3 linked regions of the Homo sapiens genome follow. The protein of the gene in region 2 interacts with the protein of the main gene of each other region in a pairwise test. Each region holds a gene or a part of one and is shown on either strand. Other genes may lie near its edges.

Region 1 (3,654 bases), about 53 Mb from region 2:
ATTCTAAACAAGACACAGTTCCTGTCCTTAAAGAGATTAAAGTCTACTGTAACAAACAGGAAAGTTAAAATAGGCAATCATGATGCTGTACATTAAGAGTTACAACACATGCAAATGCAAAATGCTATGGGAGGACATAAGCATAGCACCTAACCCAGGGCTTACGTAAGTTTTAGGCTGGTCAGAGAAAGCTTCTTAGGAGAATTAAAATCCTAAGAATAAAAACCAAGATAGACAAAGTGAACTGCATGTGCAAAGGCCTGAAGCTGACAGAAAGTATTACATTCCTGTTTGGTATAGCAGCAGCCCAGAAGCAAGAAGCTAGAAGTAGAGTTAGAAAGGTAGGCCGGGCGCAGTGGCTCATGCCTTTAATCCCAGCACTTTGGGAGGCCAACTGAAGTCAGGAGTTTGAGACCAGCCTGGCCAACGTGGTGAAACCCCATCTCTACTAAAATACAAAAATTAGCCAGGCATGGTGGCAGGCACCTGTAATCCCAGCTACTCAGGAGGCTGAGGCAGGAGAATCCCTTGGAGGCAGGAGAATCCCTTGTACCCAGGAGGCAGAGGTTGCAGTGAGCCAAGATTGCACCAATGCACTCCAGCCTGGGTGACAGGGCGAGACTCTCTCTCAAAAAAAAGAAAGGTATACAGGGTTGGACAAAGCTAATATACTAAAACTTTATTCTAAGGACAATGATAAGGAACTAATGCGTCTTAAACATTGGACTGGCACAATCAGTCCCACGTTTAAAGTGTAATTCTGATTTTCCCAGCCCCATGTTTAAGACTGTTTAGTTCCTTACCATTGGGTACAGTGTGGAGAATAAGCTGGAGAAGGGGACACAGTGGGAGGATGGCAGCACTCTAGACCACTAACGTGGAAAACAGGATGCTAAAGTTATCTGGTGACTGGATGCAGTAGTGAAGACACTGAGTTCAAGACCAGCCTGGACAACAAAGCAAATAATTCAGAATTTGTCATCTCCTTAACGTCCATTTATTAGTTTATTAAAAATTAAAAAATAAAACAAATTTTTTTGAATTCAAGACCAGCCTTGAACCTCATAGAGTGAGACTCCATCTCAAAAAATAAAAAATAAGCCAGGTACGGTAGCTTACACCTGTAATCCCAACACTCTGGGAGGCCAAGGTGGGAGGATCACTTGAACTGAAGAATTTGGGACTAGCCTGGACAACATAGCAAGACCTCCTCACTACTAACAATAAAAAAATTAGCTGGGCAGGCATGGTACTACATCCCTGTAGTCCCAGCTACTCAGGAAGCTGAGGCAAGAGGATGACTTGAACCCAGAAGTTTGAGGTTGCATTGAGCTATGATCACACCACCTCACTCCAGCGTGGGCAAGAAAGTGAGACCCCATCTCAAAAAAATTAATTAAAGTAAAATAAAAAATAAAGAAGATTCAAAAATCACTAAGACCCAGTGGTTAATAAGGCATGTAGAATAACAACACTGTGCTTGATAAAAAGCATGTACTCAAAAAATGGTACCTGCTACTATTATTATTGTTATTGGGCATTGGATTAGATGACCTTTGAAATCACATTCATCCTTAAGAGTCTACGTTACCTTGAAGATGTATCTTGTTCTCAGAAAAGTCCTTTCCCACGATTACCAAGCTATCTTATACAAAATGATTCATTTTTTTATTCATAGACTACACCAGAACTGCTCAACTGGGCTCCACTACACACCAGTCATAGCATGAAACGTTTATTAGGTGTTCTCACAAACAGCGGTCCATGACCAAGTAAGTCTGAGTAACACCGCGTAATGTATCTTCCCTCTTGAAGGGTCATAGGCAAATAAGCACCAAGGCTCTGAATAATAATTCTGCAGTAAAGAAAGGCATTTCACTTTGGCCATTTTTTGTCAAGGATCCTCTTTTTATCCCCAAAGGACACTGATTAGCACTACACAGAACTAATGTTCAGTGGAAGAGCTTGGGAAATGCTACTCTAAACCAACTTACAAATTTTAGTGGAGTGAAAAGACTATAGGCAACTGTATTCTGATAACCTTCCAAAATGGTTAGAGTTTTACACACATTATGGCGTTTTCCTTTCTAACTTAGTACTACTGAAAATGACATTAAATACCACCATAAATAGCAATCCTTTGCCTCCTAAGTGATTGCCAACCAAGCATTCTTGGCTTCTTAAAAGGCCCCAACTTCGTCATTTCATAATGAGCAAATTCTATGCTACTTACTTTCAGGGTACAGTAATAATTTTTAAAACAGTTTAAAATGACAAGGATGTCAACTGTGCAGATAATGTGTACTTTATTAGCCCCTTCTCTCTTCTCTTTTAAAAGGAACAGATCATGCCAGTGTCAAAGGGATATATCTTCTTAACACTGGGCAAAGAATCTCAACTTCATAGAGATTACTGGACAGTTTACAGCTCTGGAGGCCAAGGGCAACAGTAATTTGGGATTGTGAAAACCTTCAGTACTTCAGATTTAAGCCAATGACATGATACAAAATATTCTATACTCTAACATCATTTCCTATGAGTCATCTCATTCCTTTTTTGGTTTTGTTTTGTTTTTTTTTGGAGACAGTCTCACCCTGTCGTCAAGGCTGGAGTGCAATAGAGGCGCGATCTCGGCTCACTGCAACCTCTGCCTCCCGGATTCAAGCGATTCTCCTGCCTCAGCCTCCCGAGTAGCTGGGGTTACAGAGGCCCACCACCACGCCCAGCTAATTTTTTGTATCTTTAGTAGAGATGGGATTTCACCATGTTGGCCAGGCTGGTCTTAAACTCCTGACCTCATGATCTGCCCGCCTCAGCCTCCCAAAGTGCTGGGATTACAGGTGTGAGCCACGGCGCCCGGCCCATCTCATTCCTCTTATTAAAACACTTTGAAACACTGCTCAAGATCACTATTTATGGTTCATACTCATGAATGTATTTAAGAATAGGACAATTATTGAATCTTATTAAGAATATACAATTGACTTTAACACTTGAACCCGGGAGGCAAAGGATATACTATTGGCTTTAAATGAAGGGTATTCAGGCTGGGCGCAGTGGAGGCTGAGGCAGGCAGATCACCTGAGGTCAGCAGTTCGTGACCAGCCTGGCCAACAAGATGAGACCCTGTCTCTACAAAATATACAAAAATTAGCCAGGTGTGGTGGCACGCACCTGTAGTCCCAAGCTACTCAGGAGGCTGAGGCAGGAGAATCGTCTGAACCCAAAAGGCAGAGGTTGCAGTGAGCCGAGGTCATGTCACTGCACTCCAGCCTGGGCGACAGAGCAAGACTCCAGCAAATAAATAAATGAATGAATGGCATTCATTTAAATAGGACACCTTATATATAGTACCTTGAACGTGAATTTTTTTTTTTTTTTCAAAGAGGGAATCCCGTTCTGTCACCCAGGCTGGAGTGCAGGGGCATGATCTCAGCTCACTGCAGCCTCCGCCTCTGGGTTCGAGCGATTCTCCTGCCTCAGCCTCCTGAGTAGCTGGGACTACAGGTGCCTGCCACCATGCCTGGCTAATTTTTGTATTTTTAGTAGAAACGGAGTTTCACCATATTGGCCAGGCTGGTCACAAACTCTTGACTTCAGGTGATCTGCCAGCCTCGTCCTCCCAAAGTGCTGGGATTACAGGCGTGAGCCACT
Region 2 (3,654 bases):
ATTATTCCAAAGAAGTTTTGTTTTGAGAGATTACATTTTTAAAGAAATTCTTAAGGTTTATATGTTTTAGGTGTTTGAAGTGTGTGCCTATACACTAATCATAATAGGACATTTTTATACTTTTCTGTCAGCATTGATTAGGAATGTAGAATATATCCAAATGGAATAAGTAATGTACATTTTAAAGTGATATGATTCTCACATGTTGAAGTTTGGGTTTTTAGTGATAAGTTTAATGAATTAGACTTTGCTTCAGGACATTTCACTTGTTCATTTCTCACCTTGCTTTATCTTGTCTGAGCAAATTAAGCATTCTGAGATAGTTCTGTAAAATGCAAGTTAAAGTTGAACTAATTTTATCACCAGTATATCTATGAAATAACTTATTTAAAAAAATTTTTTTTTCTGTTTTGCTTATTTTGAGTTTAAGAAAGTAGACTTGGTATTGAAGACCATAGATACATGAATAGAGGGAGTTCTAAGCTATAAAAGGTGTTCCTATTTTGTTGCAGTTTTTTGTGAACACGTATTCTTGAATGAGTTCTAACATGTTCTGTTGCCTTATAGAAAGAATTGACATTGAGAGTCAGCTGTAAGTTCCGCACTGAGAATTCTTTAACCTTAGGGAAATCTTTTAACTAAGGTTTTCTTATTTGTGTACAAATAATACTTGATTTCAGGTATTACTTGTAATTTTTGAGAATTAGTCAGGGGTTGAGAACCTTACATGAAATATCTCCCCTCACATTTATGAGAATTGTAACTGAAAGTAGTAAAAGTTTGAAAGAGTATCTGAGAATTTGCGTCTTCAGCTGTTGAGTTGCTCCAAGCTGTCTTACGTTGAAGGAATTTTTAAAAAATTCCTGTCCTTCTCACACTAGTAGCTTTGTAAGATAACATGAAAATAGATCACTGGAAAAGATGAGGGAAAGACCAACACTCAATTTTTTACTATTTGATTCAATAGACATAAAATTATTTTGTCAAATTGCAATGAAGGTACTTAAATGCTTTGAATTTCCATACTTAACTAATGTTAACCATTAGGAGCAGTTTTGGCATAAGTCCATGGACCACAGTTTGAGAACCTTTGCTCTAAAGCCTAAACCAGTCTCTGTTGGAAAGTGGACGTAAGTAGTAAATAATCGTTTATACAGATATTTTTTCCGAAGGGACACATCTAATTTGCACTGCAAAATTTATCACATAATCAAATGCTTTTCAAGTTAGGATTTTATTAATACTTTTCTTTAAATTAATATATCTTTTATTTCTGTTTTCCTTCTGCCACCCCACAATTACTTATTGAATACTACCAATTATTTGGCATCATGCTAGGTACTACTAAGGATATTAAGATAAATGATACTCAATTCCTTCTCTGCCATTAGTCTCTCATTGTTGTCCAAGATTTCCAGTAGTGATACCATGGAGGACATGGTTCTTAAGGGGTTTCAGAAACCTTTGCCAGGCTAATGAGCCAAGAAGTCACTTTGGCCTACATCCTCTTAATGTATTTTATGTGAAATACATTAGTTGCTTCCTTCCCACAAACAAAAGAAAATGGAGAAATTAGAGAATGCTGATTTATATAGTATTTAAAAGGTACTGTATATCACGTAATTTTACAAATGAAAAACATGTTTTATGCATATGAAGTATAAAGTGAGTCACATAAATTCATGTTATGACAGAACCTTTCAGGAGTACATCACTTTGTAAAATAAGATAAGCCTATATGAAGATTATTGTTGCTTCAAAGAAATTTTTACTTCTTTTTTGTTTTTTTAATAGCTGTCTTGTTAACATCTGTCTTTTAAGCTGAAAAATGTGCAAAGTATTTTTTCCCCTAATGTACACCATGGACTTTTCTGGTTGTAGTTTTGAGATACACGGCATAGGGTGACAGATAGTGATGTGTGTTAATTTTACTCACAAATTTTTAAAAAAATATTTTTCTGTTTTGGAAAGATGAGATCCTTAGAAATAGGGCCATGAATAGTCCATAAGGTCTCTGTACAAATTAGAAAAAGGCACTCCTTCCTTAAAAAGCATTACTACTGTCTGCCAGAAAAAGTATCACAGTAAACATACGAATTTATGGTATTTACAATAAGAATGGCCCTCTAGTATGTTGTGTACTGAACAACCTACCTAACTGTATGTAAATGGTGGCCCTGCTTGGGAGCCATTTCCTTTATCCTTTAATATTCTCTTTGTGTAAAATGGGAATGATAACTAATACATGATAGCAAATAATGTAAAATATCTCTCTATTTAGAAGGTATTATGTCCAGTTATTGATATCTGTTAGCCCAATGTGTTTAAAATTAAAGTCAATGAAATTTTTGAAATTAAATTTATGGCTGCTCCTTTTCAACCATTTTGTTGAGAGTATAGTTTTTACGTATGGCAACTCTTTGAATAATATTAAATATTAACCTTGGACCTACTTGAAAGCAGTGTTCTCAGCCTTAAATGTTTTTAAAGGTAGTTATATATTTAAAAAAAATTCTTAATCCAAGCCCTCCATGGTTAAAAATAGCTTGGATTGGATTTTCTTTCTTTTTTTTTTTTTTTTTTTTTTTGAGACAGAGTCACGCTGTCAGGCTGGAGTGCAGTGGTGTGACCTCGGCTCTCTACAAGCTCTGCCTCCCGGGTTCAAGCAATTCTCATGCCTTAGCCTCCTGAGTAGCTGGGATTACAGGCGTGTGCCACCACGCCTGGCTAATTTTTCTGTTTTTTGTAGAGACAATGTGTTGCCATGTGGGCCAGGCTTGTCTCTAACTCCTGACTTCAAGTAATCCCCGTGCCTTGGCCTCCCAGAGTGCTGGGATTACAGGCATGAGCCACCATGGTCGGCTGGCTTGGATATCCTTAATGTCTAGTATAGTAACTATGGTATTTTGAAGGGTTGTCTCTCCATTGTGTTGATTTGTTAATTTTATAAATTTGATATTTTATAAATATGCTTGTCCAGCTTGTATTTAAATATGATATTGTATAGCTATACATTTATTTAGGTCCTGTACACTTATGAGGGTACTCTTTTAAATTTAAAATAAAAAATACAGATGAGAAATACATAGTCTGAGTTGGTTAAGTGATTCTTAGGTGCTAGACACTGTCAAACGCCTTATATTAATTACCTGTTGATTCCTACAACCCTAAAACTAATAACAATATGATATTTATTGCTTCATTTTTAATTTTTAAGAGGCAGGGTCTTGCTTTCTCACCCAGGTTGGAGTGCAGTGCCACAGTCATAGTTTACTGTGGCCTCAAACTCCTGGGCACAAGCGATCTTCCTGCCTCAGCCTCCCGTGTAGCTGGGACTACAGGCGCCTGCCACCACGCCGGCCAATTTTTTTTGTATTTTTAGTAGAGACAGGGTTTCACCCTGTTAGCCAGGATGGTCTCGATTTCCTGACCTCATGATCTGCCTGCCTTGGTCTCCCAAAGTGCTGGGATTATAGGCGTGAGCCACCGTGCCTGGCCATGTTGGTGAATTTGATATACAGAACTTAGAATAATGCCTTTCTGAAGTTTTTAGGGAGGTCAGGGGAAGTGAGTTAACTTAATAATAGGACAGTACTATGCTTTTTGGCATCAGATTATTTCTAAAGAAGGTTGATGAAAACAGCTTAACATTTG
Region 3 (3,654 bases), on a different chromosome or scaffold from region 2:
TTCAGTAGAGATGGCGTTTCACCACGTTGCCCACGCTGGTCTCGAACTCCTGAGCTCAAGCAATCCGCCCACTTCAGCCTCCCAAAGTGCTAGGATTACAGGCGTGAGCCACCGCGCCGGGCTGGTGTTAAGTTTTTAAATACGATACCTGGTTTTTAACTGATATAAGCCAGGCAGACCATGGTCCTATGGTGGCTCTACTGAGAGCAGCTTTGGCTTAAGAGAGTGGGTAGGAAAGGGATTAGACTATCAAGAACAAGTCATTTATTTTTAGTAATCACTGATGACTAGAAAATAAACTCCAAACACAGGTGAATTCTCTGAGCTTGGAGTTTTGTGCTAGGCATAGGCAGACAGTTGCCTCATTCTCTTATTCTCTATGTTGTTTTAAACTACATTCATGGTCAAGAGAGGAAATTTAGCTATCTTCACGATTATCGTTCTTTTTTAAAAATATAATTTCAACTTTTAGATTTGGGGGTACACGTACAGACTTGTTACATGGGTATATTGAGTGACGCTAAAGTTTGGGGTACAGTTGGTCCCGCCAGCAGGTAGTGAACACAGTACCCAACAGTTAGTTTTTCACCCCTTGTTCCTTTCCTCCCTCCTTCCCCCTCCCCCCAGATTATTGTTCTTTCTAAACTGTTAGAAAAAGGGTTATACTTCTTACATACCACTTGGATGCATGTGGTATAACCCATGGAGTTTTGCTGCCAACTAAGGTCCCCAAGTAGGTCATGAAAGCCCAGATCATGGCTTGCATTTTGAAAGTTCCAGACTTTTCAGAGATCTGGCTTTGGGCTTTATTCACGGAGGAGTAACTGTAGGGTTTTTTTCCCCCAATGAACAAATAATGGATGGTGACCCTTCCATAAAGAAGGCACCACTTTGGAATTGAGGCCAGTGAATTGACTGCAAATTCAGAAGCCAAAAGGGTATGCCTAGTATACTGTCAGAAGCCAGAGGTGGGGGTATGCCTAGTATACAACAACTCAGTGAATTGACTGCAAATGCAGAAGCCAAAGGCATATGCCTAGTATACAACAACTCAGTGAACTGACTGCAAATTCGGAAGCCCAAGGGCTACGCCTAGTATGCTGTCTTTCCAGGAATTGAGTTTTCTCAAAATCTAGGAGGAAATGGAGTGGTTTGTAGAAGATGCTTCAATCTTACTATCAGTATGGAAGCAATGAATGAATAAAAGAAAAATAAAGGAATACAGGCTAATTTAACTGGAGGAAGATCTTAAAGTATAGGGAAGACAGAAATGGAACAGGAAAGAACATGAACTTAGGTCTCTAAAGCTTTTAAAAGGAGGGTGCAGAAGAGGGATCCTTGTTGGTTATGACCCTACCGGATATGGTAACTGGGTTCCAAGGAAATATAACAGAGGCAGAGTGTGAAGAGCTCAGAAAATAGATTGGCATATGTTCCCCCCATCCCTTGTCCCCCTCTCCACTGTAAGAGCTCAGATTCAATAAACCCTTGGGGAAATTGTCTTTTAAATAGTTCTCCAATTGCTTTTATAGGTTCTGTCAAGTCATAACAGAAAATGTGGGCCAAGCGTGGTAGCTCATGCCTGTAATCCCAGTGATTTGGGAGGCTGAAGCAGAAGGATCCCTTGAGCCCTGGAGTTTGAGATCAGCCTGGGCAGCATATCAAGACCCCGTCTCTAAAAAAATAAAAATAAATGGCCAGGTGTGGTGGCTCACGCCTGTAATCCCAACACTTTGGGAGGCTGAGGCAGGCAGATCACCTGAGGTCAGGAGTTCGAGACCAGCCTGGCCAACATGGTGAAACCCCGTCTCTACTAAAAATACAAAAAATTACCAGGGTGTGATGGCAGGCACTTGTAATCCCAGCTACTTGGGAGGCTGAGGCACAAGAATCACTTGAACTCAAGAGGCAGAGGTTGCAGTGAGCCAAGATCATACCACCGCACTCCAGCCTGGGTAACAAGAGTGAAACTCTGTCTAAAAAATAAAAATAAAAATAAAAATAAATAAAAACTAGAAAATGTGTACAGATTTAAGAGGGGAAAGATCAGTATAGGACACTTCAAGCACTGTTAGGTGAGTGTCAAGGTGACAGTTGTAGGTAGAGATGCCTTTGCCCTGAGGAGGCATGCAGAATAAATTTCTGAAATTTATGAGAAAGTACAGGAAGATGAAACATACTAAAGGAGAGCCAGGTAGATGGAGTCCAGGCTTGGAAGGATTTATCTTCTGGATGGATTCTTCATCCTGGAGGTGAAGAAGGACAAAAACACTTTGAACAATGGCTGCTTTTGATAGACCCAGAAATCACTGACTTTCTCCTCATATTGGGAGATTTCACACAAGAAAACGTGCAGAGGAGTTAAGGTGGGAAATAAAAGTTGGGGCCCAAAGGCAAAGAGCAAATAAAATCAAGGAGAGCACCAAAGTCCAGCAAAAGTTACAGGCCAATCTGTGGTAAAAAGGAAAGGGATTCATTGAAGAATCAGATTGTTAAAAACTCAGGTGACCCTTTCTTTTTTTTTTTGAGATGGAGTCTTGCTCGGTCACCCAGGCTGGAGTGCAGTGGTACAGTGGCGTGATATCTGCTCACTGCAACCTCCACCTCCCAGGTTCAAACGATTCTCCTGCCTCAGCCTCTCGAGTAGCTTGGACCACAGGCGTGCACCACCATGCCCGGCTAATTTTTGTATTTTTAGTAGAGACGGGGTTTTACCATGTTGGCCAGGCTGGTCTCAAACTCCTGTCCTCAGGTGACCTGCTGGCCTCGGCCTCCCAAACTGCTGGGATTATAGGCATGGACCACAACACTTGGCCAAAACTTAGCTGACCCTTTCTTAAAGGATTGGGTAAAACCAAAGTGGGATGCAAAATACTACATATCCCACAACAGAAAAACATGTAGACAGGTCTTGGGGAGTATGTTGCCGAGGCATTAGTTCCAGAACTCTAGGGCCACAGGCTTCCAAAGTAACCACAGCCCTTTCCACTCAGGAATTTGTGGAGGGTGATGTCCCAGCTGAAACAGTGTAGGCAGGAAGAAGACATCTTCCCTTTGACTGAGCAGGTCTTAAGCTTTTAACCTGGCCTGTATATCAGAATTACCCAGGGAGTTTTCAAAAAAATTCTGGTGCCCAGGCTGCACCACAGACCAGTGAAATCAGAACCTCTGGGCCTGGGACCCCAGGAATCAGTATTTTTAAAGACTTGCCTGGTGAGTCCAACATGCAGCCAAGGCTGAAAACCATTCTCTTAAGGGCAGTTTCACAACCCTAGGCAATTCCTTAGCAAGAAGTACTGACAGCAGCTACGAAGGTACAGGACTAAAACACCTGTTTCACTGAAGGGCAGCGGGGGTGGGTGTTACCTGGCACTTCAGTGCTAAAATGAATGTAAAGAAATTATGTTCATGGCCAGGCGTGGTGGCTCATACCTGTAATCCCAGCACTTTGGGAAGCCGAGGCGGGCGGATCATCTGAGGTCAGGAGTTCGAGACCAGCCTGACCAACATGGAGAAACCCTGCCTCTACTAAAAATACAAAATTAGCCGGGCATGGTGGCAGATGCCTGTAATCCCAGCTACTAGGAGGCTGAGGCAGCAGAATCGGTTGAACCTGGGAGGTAGAGGTTGCGGTGAGCCAAGATCGTGCCATCG

The links.
Region 1: the proteins of DR1 (region 2) and NFYC interact in binary tests that used the Homo sapiens proteins (3 or more experiments, as listed by UniProt).
Region 3: the proteins of DR1 (region 2) and RNF34 interact in binary tests that used the Homo sapiens proteins (3 or more experiments, as listed by UniProt).

Annotation. Positions count from the first base shown.
Region 1 is NC_000001.11:40,698,091-40,701,744, reverse strand, and holds part of NFYC (nuclear transcription factor Y subunit gamma), read right to left. Parts: intron 1-3,654. UniProt on the Homo sapiens protein: Component of the sequence-specific heterotrimeric transcription factor (NF-Y) which specifically recognizes a 5'-CCAAT-3' box motif found in the promoters of its target genes.
Region 2 is NC_000001.11:93,348,872-93,352,525, forward strand, and holds part of DR1 (protein Dr1), read left to right. Parts: intron 1-3,654. UniProt on the Homo sapiens protein: The association of the DR1/DRAP1 heterodimer with TBP results in a functional repression of both activated and basal transcription of class II genes.
Region 3 is NC_000012.12:121,406,464-121,410,117, forward strand, and holds part of RNF34 (E3 ubiquitin-protein ligase RNF34), read left to right. Parts: intron 1-1,997; exon of another isoform or gene 1,998-2,012; coding exon of another isoform or gene 2,013-2,246; intron 2,247-3,654. Other genes in the region: KDM2B (lysine-specific demethylase 2B), read right to left, coding at 2,013-2,246. UniProt on the Homo sapiens protein: E3 ubiquitin-protein ligase that regulates several biological processes through the ubiquitin-mediated proteasomal degradation of various target proteins.